2 separate regions of the Homo sapiens genome follow, and region 2 is linked to region 1. The links come from fine-mapping of genetic effects on gene expression. A gene starts in region 1. The other region holds a variant in brackets. All regions are shown on one strand. Distances are between the middles of the regions. Region 1 holds the start of UCHL1 (ubiquitin C-terminal hydrolase L1). Region 2 has its middle 27 kb from the start of UCHL1.

Region 1 (8,321 bases):
ACCTACCAAATCCCAGTTTGTCTTGATTATTGGCCACTGCGTGAATAAGTCCGATTGTGCCACAGGAATTCCCAATGGTCTGCTTCATGAAGTACACTTTAGGACTAACTTCTTGTCCCTTCAGCTCTTCAATCTGCTTTTTCCTGAAGTTCTCATGCTGCGAATGTAAAAAGCGTTTTTACATCTCAGAATGAAAGTGCAAAGAACAGATGGCAGCACATGAGTTCTACCAACTAAATGGAAACACCAGTGGGATGTGTGACCAGAACCCCTGGTTCTAGATGTTGGCTGACTCCCAGAGAAGGGCCCGTCTGTCTGCCTCCCACACCACCCACGCCAGCCAGTGGGGCTCTGAGAGGTTCGGAGACTCCACCCTGGTGCTGCAGTGCAGTGACTGCCTTGGATACTGCCCAAGGCTGTGTCTAGACACCACTGCAACCTTTCAGCCCAAAATGGTGTCACGAAGTCAGAAAACAAAGAAACCAATTCATTATTTTCTCCCTTTAACACTTAACAACTATTTCACATAGGCATCCTAAATCAAGCTTCAGTCAATTGAATGCCCAACAAGAGCACCAGCTGGTTTACATTTCATTATTCTTTAAAGTTCTACTTCTACTCGGCTTAAGTACACTTCGCTTCAAAAACAAAAACGGCCTTAACTGCTGAAAAGAACAAGTGAAAGAAATTAACCATTACCTCCGCCCTCTTTTTAAGGAAAAGACAACTGATCCAGGGTATTGGGCTGTGATTTTACAAGAGGAAGATGTGACACTAGCTTGTCCTTGCCAGCTAAACAGTTTACTTTGAGGACAGACTGGCAATTTGAGGAGGAGGATAGAGACTGGTAAATGAATCGGACTAGGAAACGGATTTCCTCAAAGCATCTGCTAGCTTTCTGTATAGTAATTTAGTAAGCCTATCTGGACTTTTCACTAACTAGCTTTAAAGACCTTAGAAGTTATGATTTCTTGAGCCAGGGTCAGTGGCTTGCACCTATAATCCCAGCTACTAGGGAGGCTGAGGCAGGAGGATCACTTGAGCTCAGAAGTTTGAGACCTTGTCTCTAAAAAATAAAAATATAATAAATAAGTTAGGACTTCCCAGTTAAAGAGTAGGGTACTAACACTATAGAAACACTGATTTCCCATAACGAGCAAAACCAGACAGACCATCAGAAACCTATTTCCAATTCTAGTAGCTTTGCATTTCTGTACATGAACTGAAGTTTAAGCTTGCTCTCTGGTACTAATAGAAGAGTAAGATCTCTTACCCCAGAAGATCAACTTAAACTCCAACTAGCAGAACTTTTTCGCTTCTATCTAACTGGATCCTCAACTTAGTATTCATTGACCAGTAAGTGTTTTTCATTTTCTAGGCTAATTAGATGAAATGTTAAAATGGGATAGCACCATCCTTTAGGGCTGCTTGAGCTCTTCCATGGAAATCATTCTGTAAATAGTCTACTAGCACTTAATGTTTCAGAAGTGGTCCATGTAGGGGGTCATAACATTCCCTTAGTCAAAAATTAAATGCCTTCCAAATTAACATTAGCATCTTTGGAGTCAACCTATAAAACCTCAACTTTTCTTTCAATCGGCTTCAGTGTTTTGTCCAGTAGGCATTCTGTGTAGCAGAATAGGCGCTCGATAAATCTGATAGGTTGAATTGAAACTAAAGGACAAAGTATCGAGCTCTTTCAAACATAACACAAACTAGAATGTTCTCTAAACAAGATTCAGCAAAAGGAGAACAGTCAGCTTTTAAAGGCAAACATGCTGCACCACTGCCTCCCAGAGGCCTTGCCTCTGAATGCTGCTCAAAACCTCCGAGTCATCATGGTTGCTCTAATAAAAAACCTCTGTGTGATGCTCAACTGGAGACAGGAGACTGATTTGGTCAACCAGGAAGCTAATTCGACTTCCAACAATTTGGCATCTTCCTTTTAGCCCAAGTAAAAGACTTTAGCAATAAAAACATGTCAGTGAGATCATCTTATTAGCTGTAAATAAGTGTTTTTACCCACAATACTTAGCTTACTTACTAGGAGGAAGGCTTGGAACTTCCCATACTCTTGATTTTGGCTACAGATGCTTCCAGAACACCTAGCCTTAGGACGGTGCTTCAGTTAACCTCACTCTTTAGAGTGATGCCCCAAGTTTTGCTAAAGCTAATTTCAGTCACTCCCACATCAGCGGTCAAGTGACAGCAATAGGAGATAAGACAATGCCATGCGCTAATGACTGGGATTCCATACATCACAAGACTGCAAATATCCTAGCTATCCTTTAAAAAAAAAAATCTGACGCTGTCTTTCAGATACATCTATCCATGCACACTTGTAGGAGGAAAATCATTTCAAGGGAAATGCAAAGGTGCTTTCAAAACTGAGCTAATAACCCCCTATTTCAGTTAGCTACAAGGTCAGAGATGAACAAGGATAAGTGAAGAGGAAGGAGGTTCCCACACAGAAACCATACACAAAATGATTAAGCTTTAAGAAATACATTCAAGAGGCTAAAAACCAAGTGTGCAAGTGGTGGGAGTGGAGAAGAGAGAAGAACCCCTTAAGACCATCAGAAACCCAAGTAATGGAGGCGGAGAATTAGCGAACCTAATTGTTTCCCTGCGATTTAGGTCAGCCCTTCCCCCTCCATTCTACAGCTAGGTGGGAGTCTGAGAAGCAAACAATGAGTTGACAGGTTATAGCCCTTAAAGGGAAACCAGCAGCCATTCCCCGGAACCGGAGGCTCGAAAAAGCCCAAGTTCGAGGGAACTCATGAGTAGGATGAATGATTTCCCTGGATAACGGGATAGATGGAACTGAGATACTGCCTCTCTTCCAAATTTAAGGCAATTGTGGACGGATGGGCAAGAAGGCGACAGGCACCGCTGGAACAGGAGCCCAGGGAGTAGGTACCACGAAAATGCAGGCTCCTCCCTTCCTTGTAGGCGCGCCCCGCATCACCTACAGGGGAGGGGGCGGGGCGGGGAGCCCCCGAGGACTCAAGCTGGGGAGCGGCGTGCACTGCCGGCGGCCGGCGCATCCTGGGCCCCACGCCCTACCTGGGCCGTGAGGGGAAACAGCAGCAGCAGCGCGCAGGCAGGCGCTGGCACCGAGCCCAGAGACTCCTCTTCCAGCCCCAGCACGTCCACGAAGCGCCACTGGCCGGCGACCCCCAGCCGGGACAGCACCTGCGGAGAGGAGACAAGGCGGCCAGGCGCACGGGGACACGCGGGTCGCGGGCACCTGCCAGGGGGCGGGGCCAGGAGGCGCGCGCCCTCCGCGCCCGCACCCGAGCCTGGGAGGAGCCCCAGTCCCGCCCTGCCACCCCCACCCGGGCCGGCGCAATGACACAGCACAAAGCGCGGCCCACACGTGGCGCCCGCGAAGCCCGTGCAGCCGAGTCTGTGCTGCCCGCGCCACGCCCTCGGGAGCTCCGCCTGGCGCTCGCTCGCCACGGGGCGCAGCCCCCTCCGTCTCCCCGTGACCGGTTTCGTAGAGTCACCCGCTAAATGCAGGGGCCCAGGAAAGGCGCCCAGCCCACGCCCCAGCCCGGCCGTCTCCGGTGCTCGCAGCGGGCGGCTTGGTCCCTGCCAGCAGCCGGAACCGGTGGGCGCCCCCGCCTCGGCGCTCGCGGGGGAGGGGGCCAGAGACGGCGCGAGACGCCACTCACTTTGTTCAGCATCTGAAAGGCAAATGCAAAGAAAAAGGCAAAACCGAACCGATCAGCGACTCGGCTCCCCCTCCCTCGGCCTCGCGCTCTCCGGGTAGCGGTGCACCTGGCGCTCACCTCGGGGTTGATCTCCATCGGCTTGAGCTGCATCTTCGCGGAGCGCCCGGCAGAAATAGCCTAGGGAAGACGAAAAACAGCTAGCGGAGCCGCCCAGGCTGCAGCTATAAAGCGCCGGCCAGACGCACTGTGAGGCCTGTGCAGGGGGAGCAGGGGCAGAACCAAGCGAGGGGGAAACGGACGGTCGCGGCCAGATGGGTACGAACCCCCCGTGCGCAGCGCGGAGTGGTACGGCCGGGCCCCCAAACCTTGCAGTCTCACTCGCCGGTGAGATAATCTGGTGGTTGTGGAGACGGGATTTGTTGGTGGGTGTTCCTTGAGTGTATGGAGCAGTCCTTTTGATGGAGTCTTTAATTTTGGGCGAAGTTTCTGGAAACCCATCCTTTCACCATCCCAATTACTCTAAAGCTCGAGTCTCTGAAGCATTTGAGAAAAAGCACAAATTCAACAGGTATATATTTAATACGAATGAATGTAAATGTGTGCCCCCCGCCCCAAATCTCTCAGCAGTTTGCGTTTAACCTTAGACAATTCCTCCTCCATGTTAAGTCAGACCAGTACCGAGGTTCGTTTTTAAGTGACTACCTAGAATAAAACAGAATCTGGTAGATAACAGATACTGCATTAGGAATGCTGATGTAATGTGACTCCCGCGGAAGAAATGGTTGGTCCTGGGAGAGCAGTAGAAAGCTGGGGGATGTGAGGGTAATACAAGACACAAAGAAGGCAGGCGATTGGAGACTTGAGAAAACAGATCCAGGGAAAAGATGGGTATGATTTTGAGCGAGAGGCTGTAAAAGGAAAAGCATTTTTAAAAGAATGGGAAGCTTTGAAAAATAAAATGTCTGAGTTCACCGCAGAATACTCCCAATGAAGAAGAAAGGGAATGGCAACCAAGGAAACCACTGTTCTCTAATGATCTCAGGTGATCTCTAATGATCTCTAGTCAAAAGATGGAGAGAGAAAGCATTTGCTGAAGAATGAATTTTAAAAGGGACCAAAATCTATAAGAATTGTGCCAGGAAAGCTAAGCTGCAGAACAAAGTGGGCTTGCAGAAATACTTAGGTAGCGAAGGAAGCAAGAAGGTTGAGTATTTTTTAAAAATAGGCACCGAAGAGAATAATGATGATGGTAAAAGAATAGACCTTCTATTTAGGAAGTTGAGGTTAACAGATGACAGAGGGAAGGGAGGGAATCAACATTTTTTGAGTTATTGTTTTTGGGGATCCTTTGCATGTGTCTCTCATTTAATCCTTAGAGGAGCCGTGAAGAGACTCATATTAGTGCAATTTTACAGATCAGAATCCCAGGCCTAGAGAAGTTAATTTGCTTACGGTCACAATTGAAAAGTAAAACTGAGAAGTAAACCCTGCTAAACTGGGCTCCAAGAGCCCATTCTTTATCTAAGATTCCACAACATTCTACTTCTATTTTCTTTCCATTTTTGCCATTAGAAAATGACCTTCACACACAAAAATGAGAGAGAAAAAAATTAGTAAGAGGAGCTTAATGGGTGAATCTTATGGTATGTAAATTTTCCCTCAATAAGGTTGTTAAAGAAAAAAAGAGGTGAAGGTCAAGACAAGTGACTAGGTTATATTGAATGAGTTCTTGCCTTTAGACAAAGACAAATTACATTTCCAATTTACTTCATTTATTCATTCACTCAACAAATATTAAGAACCTACTGTGTGCTGGGTGCCGAGCTTGGAAAGTTTGGAATTAGGCATACAAAGATGAACACAATAAACATGGAAATTTCCCTCATGCCGTTTTTTTGTTTGTTTGTTTTGTTTGTTTTGTTTTGAGACGGAGTCTCGCTCTGTCGCCCAAGCTGGAGTGCAGTGGCGCGATCTCGGCTCACTGCAAGCTCCGCCTCCCCGGTTCACGCCATTCTCCTGCCTCAGCCTCCGGAGTAGCTGGGACTACAGGCGCCCGCCACCACACCCGGCTAATTTTTTTTGTATTTTTAGTAGAGACGGGGTTTCACCGTGTTAGCCAGGATGGTCTCATCTGCTGACCTCGTGATCCGCCCGTCTCGGCCTCCCAAAGTGCTGGGATTACAGGCGTGAGCCACCGCGCCTGGCCCCCTCGTGCTGTTTTTATCAGTCATAAGAGTTGTATGAAAGGGAGCAGAGATCAGGAGCACCTAACCTAGTGGAGGGGATCAGGAAGGCGTCCTGAAGGAAGTGACATTTAAGCTAAGGGCTGATCGGCAAGCAGACGTTAGCAGTTATAAGTGATTGCCAAAATAACTAATAAAAGCAGTCATGAAATCACTGTCAGAAATATTTGTTGAAGGCATTAATTCATTCACATTCATATACATATATGGCCTACTGTTTGCCAGGAAGCATCAGAGCAGTGAATGAAACAACTCCCTGCTTACAAAGAGATGCCAGAGACTGGATATGAACAAACCTAAGCCTAATCTTTTTTAAAAAAAAAAAAAAGAAGAAGAAGAAGAAGTAGGGGGTGATTGGGAATATACTGCTGAAACTGCAGGCCAGAAGAGTTTATATCAGTCATTAGCCAAATGTTAGGACTCATAATTTTTTACTTTTAGAAACAATAAGATGGATGCATTTAGAACAAGTTATGCCAGCCAGAACTTATCTTCTTTTCTTTGGGGGTTATTAACTGGATGGACAGGTAGAACACTGTCATTGTATTTCTTATGCTGCCAGGGTTGGCATTGGTTGATACCACAGTTGAGGTGGTTTTATAGCTTATTTAATTGATTCTACCTTAAAAAAAAAAGTGGTACTGGATGGAGCTACCTCAACCTGTAGCCACCTGACAATGGTTTTAACCTTGTCTGGTGCCACTTTATTACAGCAGAGAAAAAGAGAGGTCGTGCATACAAGCAAGAACAAGCAGTCTAAATGGCAGAATTCTTAGCCAGGTGTGGTGGTGTGTACCTGCAGTCCCAGCTACTTGAGAGGCCAAAGTGGGAGGATTGCTTGAGCCCAGGAGTTCGAGGCTACAATGAGCTGTGATGGCATGACTGCATTCCAACCTGGGCAACAGAGTGAGACCCCATCTCTTAAAATAAATAAATACATAATAAATGGCAGAATTTTGGGATTAAAAAATAAGTTTAAAATAAAATGATGAAATTTAACAGGGATTTAGGTGACGATTACATAACCCTGTGAATATACTAAAAAACTAAAAAGTGGGTTTAGGTATCACAATAAAGCTATTAAAAATGTAACAGGAATATGTGTAAAGCTCTATATTATAGTAACAGTTGTCAATTATTGCCATACAGTTAATCTTTATATTAACTTTTTTCTTGATGCTATGATTGCAAAAGTATGAAATAATTTGGAAAATATCAAGTGAAAACAACACAATAGTTTGATTGTAACCTTTTAAAAATAAATACACAGAGATCAGAAGGAAAAACATTTTTTAAAAAAAATCATTTACAGATGCATTAATGAATTAGATCTGGCTTTGTGAACAGTACCTGAGAAAAAGATTCAAATATTTCAGGTGTCATAATTTGACTATAAAGCTAGTGCAATCTTTATTTATACCAGGAGTGAGAGATTCAATTTCATTTTAATCATAGGTTCCTGAAGGAGAGTCCTGAGTCCAGTAGGGGGAAAAATGCTGTGATTGATTAGTGATGTCTACCACGAGTATGGGAAAGGGAAGTGGTAAGGATAACCAGGTATTTGCTAACCTTTGGCTAGATTAATATAATATTCAAGATCTAATCCACTCACAGAATTGACCAGACTATAACTGGATTATGATGCCCAGCCTGGCATATAATGAACACTCAATAAATACTTTTCAACTGAAAATTCGAACTACCACACTTCAAAAGAGACATTGACATATTAGAGAGTTTTCAGAGACTGAGCGCCAAAATAATGAACAAAGGTGGTTGAAGAAATTGAGAAGACAGTATATGATGTGGAGAAGAGAAAGGGTTTGTGTGTGTGTTTGGGGGATGGGGAGGGGAGTTACATGATACCAAATGCTCAAAAATACAAAGAGGGCGAGAATAATCTTTATGATTATTTAAGAATACAGGACAGACAGGTAGAAGTCAGATGAAAATATTAGTTTATATAAGAAAGCACTTAATAATTAGAGTGGTTCAACATTTATGTAAATTCTTCACATGTAATGGTGAGCATGCTTTTAGCAGCATAATCATAGCTAACACTTACTGATTGCTTACGGATGCCAGGCACTACTTCTTTGTGTTTTCTGTGTATTAACTCTTTTAATCAACATAACAACCTATTAGGTAGGTTACTATTATTATTCTCATTTAGAAATGAAGATCAGAAAGGTTAAGTTCTTTGCCTATGGTTATTTAAGTCATGAGAACTGAAATTTGACCACAGACAGTCTGCACTCTTGACCACTGTACTATATTATACCAGGAGTCCTCAAGTCCCAGGCTGAGGACTGGTACAGGTCTGTGGCCTGTTAGGAACTGGGTGGCACAGCAAGAGGTGAGCGGCGGGTGAGCAAACATTACTGCCTGAGCTCCGCCTCCT
Region 2 (8,337 bases), 27 kb before region 1:
TCTCCCTTGTCCAGACGCCGGCACCCAAGGCAGAAGCTGGTCACCGCACGCCTTAACCAGCCACAGGCTGGGCACAGAGCCACAGCAGGCGTGCGATCTGGGCCAGTAGCATGAGCAGAGCGCAGCCTGCTGAGCAGAGTGGGTGAGGTGAGCCCAGCAGGCCCATGTGAAGCCCCAGCAGAGGAACTGCTGACGGTGGAGATTTTTGTCTGGCAAAGTGGCACCAAAAGAATCCTGTGTCAAAGCGATTAAGAAAATGGGGGAGATATATAATCAGAGGGAAAGATTAGGAAGAAAATTAATGTACAATGCATGCTGATTTCAAAAGTTTGAGAAATCCAGAGTATATTGTAAGGCAAAAAAGAAGGAAATGCTATAAATATTTGAAGGCCCCTTTTGTGATTGGGTAAACAATATCAGAAGACAGTCTGGGGGCAAATTCATGAAATAAGTCAATTGCACAAATAATAGTAAACTTATGGCCTCTATACTGGCACCACATGTCTTTACAAAAAGGGGCATGGGTCCATAGCATCCCACGGAAGCAAATATAGGCACATGAAGTAGAAAAACTAAGCCTGGTCTCTGAGCCAACTGTTGTTCTTTATTTCAAAGATGATTTTATGGGCTTTAAATTTTAAAATAATAATTATCATAAAGCTCTCAAATGTGGCTTTCGTGTTTCCAAAAGGAACAAAAAAGAGAGCCTTCCAGAGTGAACTGACTCTGTTGGTGGCATTTCTGGTGGCTGATGCCTGCAAAGGGCGGTGGGGGGTGGGAGAACACAGAAAAAAATAGTCCCAGAGGGAAGTAGGCAATGGGTCATACCTGAGGGCCTGGGATTCTTTCCTGCACACAAAATGTGAAGTATTTCAGTCCCATGCATGCTGAAGAACATTTTTTCATTGTTTTCATACAGATTAGATTTATGTGACCTTCTGCAGCAATGAGTAAAACATGCGGATCAGATTTCAATAAATAGTTAAGGTTACACATTACTTTTCCTGTTTAGGTTTCACCAGCACAGTGCCTCATGATGAAAAGCATAAGCAGAGGTTATAAATGAGGTAAACATAGGCTGTGGGCTGAACCAGAGAACCCAGATGACCTTCAACATCCTCAGGGAGGATCTAGAATCAGGGAGTGTGGTCAGTTTTTGGAATTTCAGTGTATGCTTTTCACCCTCATATTCAGAGAGATAGAGAGGGCAAGGAACTGAGAAGAATCAATATGACTTCTTCCCAGTCCAACCATGAGGGTCAGTGGTAGGGACAGAGAATGGGTGGTTGACAGAGGGCAACAAGGGGGATGCCCAGTGTTTTAGTGAACACATTGCATTGCCTTATTAAATTATGTGTGAGACCAGGTACAGTGACTCAAACCTGCAGTCCCAGCACTTTGGGAAGCCAAGGTGGGAAGATTGCTTGAGGCCAGAAGTTCGAGAACAGCCTGGACAATACAGGGAGACCCTGTCTCTTAAAAAAAAATAAATAAAATTAAATTATGTGTGAGTTTTCTGTTGCTGCATAACAAATTACCACAAACTTAGAGGCTTAAATCAACACTCCTTCATTAGAGCATAATTCTGCAGGTTAGAAGTCTAGCACAGAGTGACTGGGTTCTCTTCTTAGAAACTTAAAAGTTGAAATTAAGGAGTTGGCTGGGCTATGTCCCTTTCTAAAGCTCTGGGGGAAGAATCAGTTTCCAGGCTTATATGGGACAGTTGGTCAAGTTCAAGTCCTTGCGGTTGTAGAACTTACATCCTCATTTCCTTGCTGATGGTCAGTTGCAGACCAGTCTTAGCCCCTCAAGGCTGCCAGTCGTTCCCTTGCCAGAAAGAGCCCAGTCCTTTTTAAGGACTGGGTCAGGCCAACTGAGTATAATCTCTCTATCTTAATGTCCATTTATTTGGAGCCTTAATTACACCTGCAAAATCCCTTCAGTGCAGCATCTAGATTAGTGTCGGATTAAATACCTGGGAGAAGGTGTCTGTGCACCAGGGGCTGGGAATCTTGGGGACCATTTTAGAATTCTGCCAAGCACAGATTAGTTATTAAAGATTCTCCAGTCTAGCTAAGTGGTCCTTAGGGGTGGTAGTGCCAACCCCTAAGGGCTGTTTTGGAAATGTGTGGGCAAATATTTTGTTGTTGTAATCATAGTAGGGTAGGTCCCACTGGCATTTAGTGTTCAGGGCCCGAGTCACCAGAAGGCAGTCTCATACAATGAGGAATTTGTGCTGCGTCTTACACAGCTTTTGAATGTCCCCATGGGGACTCTTGTAGATGAAAAATCTGTGTATAATTTTCTGATCCTATATATAAAATATTTTTCACAGAGTTTTTGCACTGAAGTTTTCATAAGTGCAATTATGGGGTAAATCAAGGGCAGAATGTAATATAATTGTGTTTGGAATTTTGCCAAGATGGTTCACCATTTTGGAAACTTCCCATGGCCAATAATGAGCTGCTGTGACCCCTGATTACATCAGCTGTGTGTCTGTTCCTCTCTCAGGGATCTCATGTTTACATACAAGCCTCTCCCTACTTTATGCATCTTATGGAGTAATAACTGAGCGTTTACAGGTTGAAAAAAATACATATTTTGTGTCTTTAAATTGATTTGTAAACATTATATGTGTAGGTAGGTTATATTAGCTATGAATTTTATTTTAGGAGAGTAAAGGGGGCATTACAAATTTCTTAAAAGAAGCAGCTGTGGGGCTGGCAGACTTGAGAGTCAAAGGTCAACTAACAGCGTGCACTTGCTGAAGCTGGAACTGGCCAAGAGGTGAACGGTGGGCCCTGCTGCTCAGGAGTCAGGCAAGGTGAGGACGGGAAGGCATAAAAGCAGCTTAGGAATAAAGCACCAGGCAATCTGACTACACAGAACTTTGGGATAATCTACGGCAGCTGAGCAGTCCTTTGAGCTCAGCCGAAGGAACATCAAAGTCCTTTTGCTCAAGCCAATCAAACAACCCAGGTAGAGCATTTGGGGCCTGGGCAAATGATTATGTGGCTGCCCTTTCTCTGGAGGAGTGAAGGATTTCTGATGAGGATGGTGAGCCCCTGACGTAGATCCCAAAGTCACCCCTAATCACCAACCCCCAAGCATGTATTTTTTGAAGCAACTGTTGTACGACTCCCATGTACCTAAAATTGTTTTGTGTTATTTAATATAAAATATATCCAATCATATGTAAGTTAGCATGAGGTGAATTTGTGCTACTAGGTTGTTTTGAGGGTGAACTTCTGCTATGGGCTGAATTATATCCCCTTGAAATTCATCAACTGAAGCCCTAAGCCCCAGTGTGATGGTATTTGGAGATGGGGCCTTTGGGGTGATTAAGTTTAGATGACATCATGAGGGTGGGGCCATCGTGGTGGCATTAGCGCCTTTATGGGAAGAGACACCAAAGGACTTTCTCTCTCTTTCTGTCCACTGCAGGCACCAAAGAAAGAGCATGTGAGGGTATATTGAGAAGGTTGCTGTCTGTAGTGTAAGGAGAGGGCCCTAACCAGATACTGACCCTGCTGTCACCTTGGACTGTATTTCATAACAAAAAATGTAATACTGTTATAAAAAGAATAATTACATTAAATTATAATATTGTATATTAGTATCATAGAGTATAACAGCAGTTACAAACGATGAGAGTAATGGCCATGGAGACACATGGAAACTTATGAAAGGAGAACAATATTCTTCATATAGCTTATATTAATTATGTAAAAACTGTAGGCAGCAAAACAAACATTCAAAGCTACAGGAGAGGAGGCCGGGCATGGTGGCTCATGCCTGTAATCCCAGCACTTTGGGAGGCCGAGGCAGGTGGATCACTTGAGGTCAGGAGTTCGAGACCAGCCTGACCAACATAGTGAAACTCCATCTCTACTAAAAATACAAAATTAGCCAGGCATGGTGGCGGGTGCCTGTAATCCCAGCTACCTGGGAGGCTGAGGCAGGAAAATCACTTGAATCCAAGAGGCAGAGGTTGCAATGAGCCACGATCTTGTCATTGCACTCTAGCCTGGGCAACAAGAATGAAACTCTGTCTCAAAAAAAAAAAAAAAACAAAAAAAAAGATACAGGAGAGGCAGGGAGTATCTCTGGCTCAGTACTTGGCTTTAGTCTAATAATTCTCAAACTTTTTGGGTCTCAGGAAACCCTTTATCTCTTCAAGATTATTGAGGACCTCAATATGTTATGTCTATTGATATATGTCATCTTAGCAATCAAAGCTGAGAATAATTGAAATCTTTATTAATTAACTTTAACATAAAAATTGTAAACATGGGGCCAGGTCTGGTGGCTCACGCCTGTAATCCCAGCACTTTTAAGAGACCAAAGCGGTTGGATCGCTTGAACCCAGGAGTTCGAGACCAGCAAGGGCAATATAGCAAAACCCCATCTCCATAAAAAAAATACACGAATTAGCTGGGCATGGTGGCTTGAGTCTGTAGTCCCAGCTATTTGGGAGGCTGAGGTGGGAGGATCACTTGAGCCTGGGAAGTTGAGATTGCAATGAGCCGTGATCA[T/C]GCCACTCCCTCCAGTCCGGGCAACACAGTGAAACCCTGTCTCGAAAAAAAAAAAAGTTATAAATATGGTAACAACACATTTTTTACAAAAAAGAACTACATTTTTTTACAATTAAAAAAATAGAAGAATGGCATTGTTTTACATTTTTCCATCTAAAGTGAAGTACTGGCTTAATAGTGACATCTGATTCACCTATCTACTTCTACATTCAAGAGTGAAAAAGATACATAATGTCTTAGGATCATTATGGAAATAGTTTTGACATCACAGACTCTGTATAAGGTCTCAGGGAGCCCCATGGGTCCCCAGGCCATACTTTAAGAAAGACTGGTTGTGATAAGTGACACTATCAGGACGCTGAATCGTTTATAAACTCCTTTTGAACTTATATGCCCCCCACTCTTTTTTTGTGAGACAGAGTCTCACTCTGTTGCCCAGGCTGGAGTTCAGTGGTGTGATCATGGCTCACTGCAGCCTCAAACTCCCGAACTCAAGTGAGCCTCCTGCCTCAGCCTCCTAAGTAGCTGGGACTACAGCTGCACACCACCATACCCAGATAGTGTTTCATTTTTTGTAGAGATAGGGGTCTCACTATGTTGCCCGGGCTGGCCTTGAACTCCTGGGCTCAAGGGTTCCTCTGGCCTTGGCCTCCCAAAGTGCTGGAATTACAGGTGTGAGCCACCACACCCAACCATATGGCCCCTTCCTTATAGGACTCTTAGACTAACAGAAACAATAATATTAAAATATTTAAGTTAGTTTAAAGCGGATTTAATGTATTCAAGCCATAATCCCCTCTATTAGCATAGATAATTAAGTTGCTTATGGAAAATTAACACTATGTTGTTAAAATTAAGTTTCTCATAAAACCTGTTTTGGTCCTCAGCTTGGTGGTTCATAAATAATGCACTTCTTTGAAGCACTCGCATTTGAGCTTTACTAGAACTAGGGATTCAAAAATAACCCAATGGCTGAATAGAAAAGCAGAGAGGATTCATGTATAAGACAAAGGATTGAGTCACATTTAAACTCTTAAAAAATCTTTCCAGGTTCTGAGTCTAGAAGAAAAACACTGCTACTTCCCACATGTCTTTCAGCAGTTCTGATCCTTATCTCATCACCTCTTTCTTTTGAAAGCACCCATTAAAAAGATTATCAGCTCTATTGTAAGAACCCCAAAAAAGCACTAAAAGGGAAACAAATGTGTATTACAATGAAACAAATTACATTAAGTAAAAAAATATAGATCATAGAAAAACTCCTAAATTGAGGATCTGTTCCCAACCCAAACGTGCCACATCTAATTGCCATTGTTGGAATTATGACCACAAGGGAATGGGATTAATTAGGATTTACGTATGCAAATGGGTATTTATCTCTTAAAATTGTTACCCTGGAAAATAATAACTATTATTTCATTGCTGCTACTATCTTCTCAAAAAAAAAAAAAAGAACATTTTCAAAGCTTGTGGTACATAATAGGATATGAGACTTTAGTAGAATTCAAGCCTACCTAATTCTTTTATTTTAAAATATAATTGAGGCTGGATACAGTGGCTCACGCCTATAATCCCAGCACTTTGGGAGGCTGAGGTGGGCGGATCACTTGAGGTCAGGAGTTTTAGACCATCCTGGCCAACATAGTAAAACCCTGTCTCTACTAAAAATACTTAAAATTAGCTGGGTGTGGCGGCACACACCTGTAATCCCAGCTACTTGTGTGGCTGTGGCAGGAAAATTGCTTGAACCCAGGAGGTGGAGGCTGAAGTAGGCCAAGATCACGCCACTGCACTTCAGCCTGGGCAACATAGTGAGACTCCATCTCAAAACAAAAAACAAACAAACAAAAAATATATATATACACACACACACACATTTGAGACCAAAAAAAGAAAAGAGAATTGATTAATGTAACCCAACTAATTAATGTCAATGTTGGAACCAGATTCAGTTTTCTTGATGGAAAAGTCAAACTGGTTTATATTAAACCCTTATGTTAAGATAGATTTGAAAGCAAGGTTTTACTAGAAGTAGAACTGATAATATAATTGATTACATAAAATCAATTATATTTGGGATAATATCTAACTCGACGTAAGCAGAAGAGACATTCATTATAGTGAACTTGTGAAATTATTACTGCTTCTCTCTTTCATTTTACTTTCATGAAAAAATAAATAGAACCTACCCAAAAATATGAATGGACCAACAAGCAATTCACAGGGCCAGCTTTAGCCAATCTGTAGCTGGACAAATTCATCCAGTCTGAAACACGGCGCTAAAATAAAGAATGATATGGGATATGCTATCAAACTGCTCCATCTTGCCTAAGAAGGGCAGTCACCAACTGCTCCTGGTATTAAGATTTCTGGCTCATCCTACCAGCTACAATAGTGCCATAAGTTTTCCTATGCTGCCACCTACTGGATATAGTGCACATAGCCTTGAATACATCATCTGCCTTCCCGTATTAGTCGGTGTGCTTGGGTGTGAAATGGGTTAATTCAAGATATTAGCCGCTCAGTTTGGATTTAAACATCCAAATGCTGGACATTTAAAGGTTGTTTATTTTGATGACTAGAGATACCTTATGTCAACCAAAGCAAAAACCTATTGATCTGTTTTTAAAATACTTCTTGTCCTTAGAAAATTAGCTTTTAAATTTTAAATTATATCATTCCCTTTTAAAAATTGGTAACCTCAAGAGGGTAAATACACTTATATTCTTCATGCTTTAATGTAAGGCAAAATGCATTCGTCTCACTGCAATGAACAAGGCATTGATGGTTTGGGCACTATGGTTTAAGATAACTTTTAGGAAAACTTCTTTTAGAAATAGGGCATTACCGCGGGGCGCGGTGGCTCACACCTGTAATCCCAGCACTTTGGGATGACGAGACGGGCGGATCACGAGGTCAGGAGATCGAGACCATCCTGGCTTACACGGTGAAAAAATACAAAAAATTAGCCGGGTTTGGTGGCAGGCGCCTATAGTCCCAGCTACTCGGGAGGCCGAGACGGGAGAATGGCGTGAACCCAGGAGGCGGAGCTTGCAGTGAGCCGAGATGTGCCACTGCACTCCAGCCTGGGCGACAGAGCGAGACTCCGTCTCAAAAAAAAAAAAAGAAAGAAAAAGAAAAAGAAAAGAAAGAAAGAAATAGGGCATTACCCTCAGGGAATGAGGTCTAGTATGGCATTGAGCAGAAAAGGGCACTTTGTACCTTGGGATTAAGACTGGAGAAAAAGGAGTTTTAATGTATCCCCGCCGAACTCCCCTCTATTAGCATAGATAAAGAAAGGAGCTAAGTGGTGATAAAAAGTAAAAACAATAACACTTGATACATTCCAGGCACATCCCCAAGAACTTCACAATGTTCTCATGTGCTGCTCACAACAATCCTATGAGGCGGATACTGACCTCACTCTACAGATGAGGACATCGAGGCTTAGGGAGTTCATCGGCCAAGGCACCCAGCTGGTAAGGGGTGGAGCTGGTTGTATAGCCCAAGCTGTCAACCAGAGCTGTGCCGCCTGGAAGGCGGAAGGTGGAAGGATTGTTGAGCCCAGGAATTTGAGGTTACAGTAAACTGTGACCGTGCCACTGCACTCCAGTGTGGGTGACAGTGAGAACCTGTCTCTGAAAATTAAAAAATTTTTAAAAACAAATAAAGTAGCCCTATAATGGAGCCTGATAAGTGTTGGCTGTGTCCCCACCCAAATCTCATCTTGAATTGTAGCTCCCGTAATTCTCACATGTCATGGGAGGGACCCAGTGGGAGGTAATTGAATCATGGGGGTGGA

Evidence for each region. PIP is the estimated chance that this variant, and not a neighbour inherited with it, causes the effect.
Region 2: its variant is fine-mapped to the expression of UCHL1 in lung (TOPMed, PIP 0.95).

Annotation. Positions count from the first base shown.
Region 1 is chr4:41,252,483-41,260,803 of GRCh38, reverse strand. It overlaps UCHL1 (ubiquitin C-terminal hydrolase L1), which reads right to left and starts at 3,876. Exons shown (of 9, transcript NM_004181.5): 1 at 3,795-3,876; 2 at 3,678-3,689; 3 at 3,067-3,195; 4 at 7-157. The coding sequence starts at 3,827. It overlaps UCHL1-DT (UCHL1 divergent transcript), which reads left to right and starts at 4,077. Exons shown (of 3, transcript NR_102709.1): 1 at 4,077-4,245. RefSeq lists an enhancer at 2,666-3,166 and a silencer at 3,001-3,760.
Region 2 is chr4:41,279,845-41,288,181 of GRCh38, reverse strand. No RefSeq gene overlaps it. Among named protein-coding and RNA genes, the nearest start is that of UCHL1, 27 kb to the right of the region's middle. RefSeq lists an enhancer at 1-26. The variant T/C (reference allele first, on the strand shown) is at 4,536.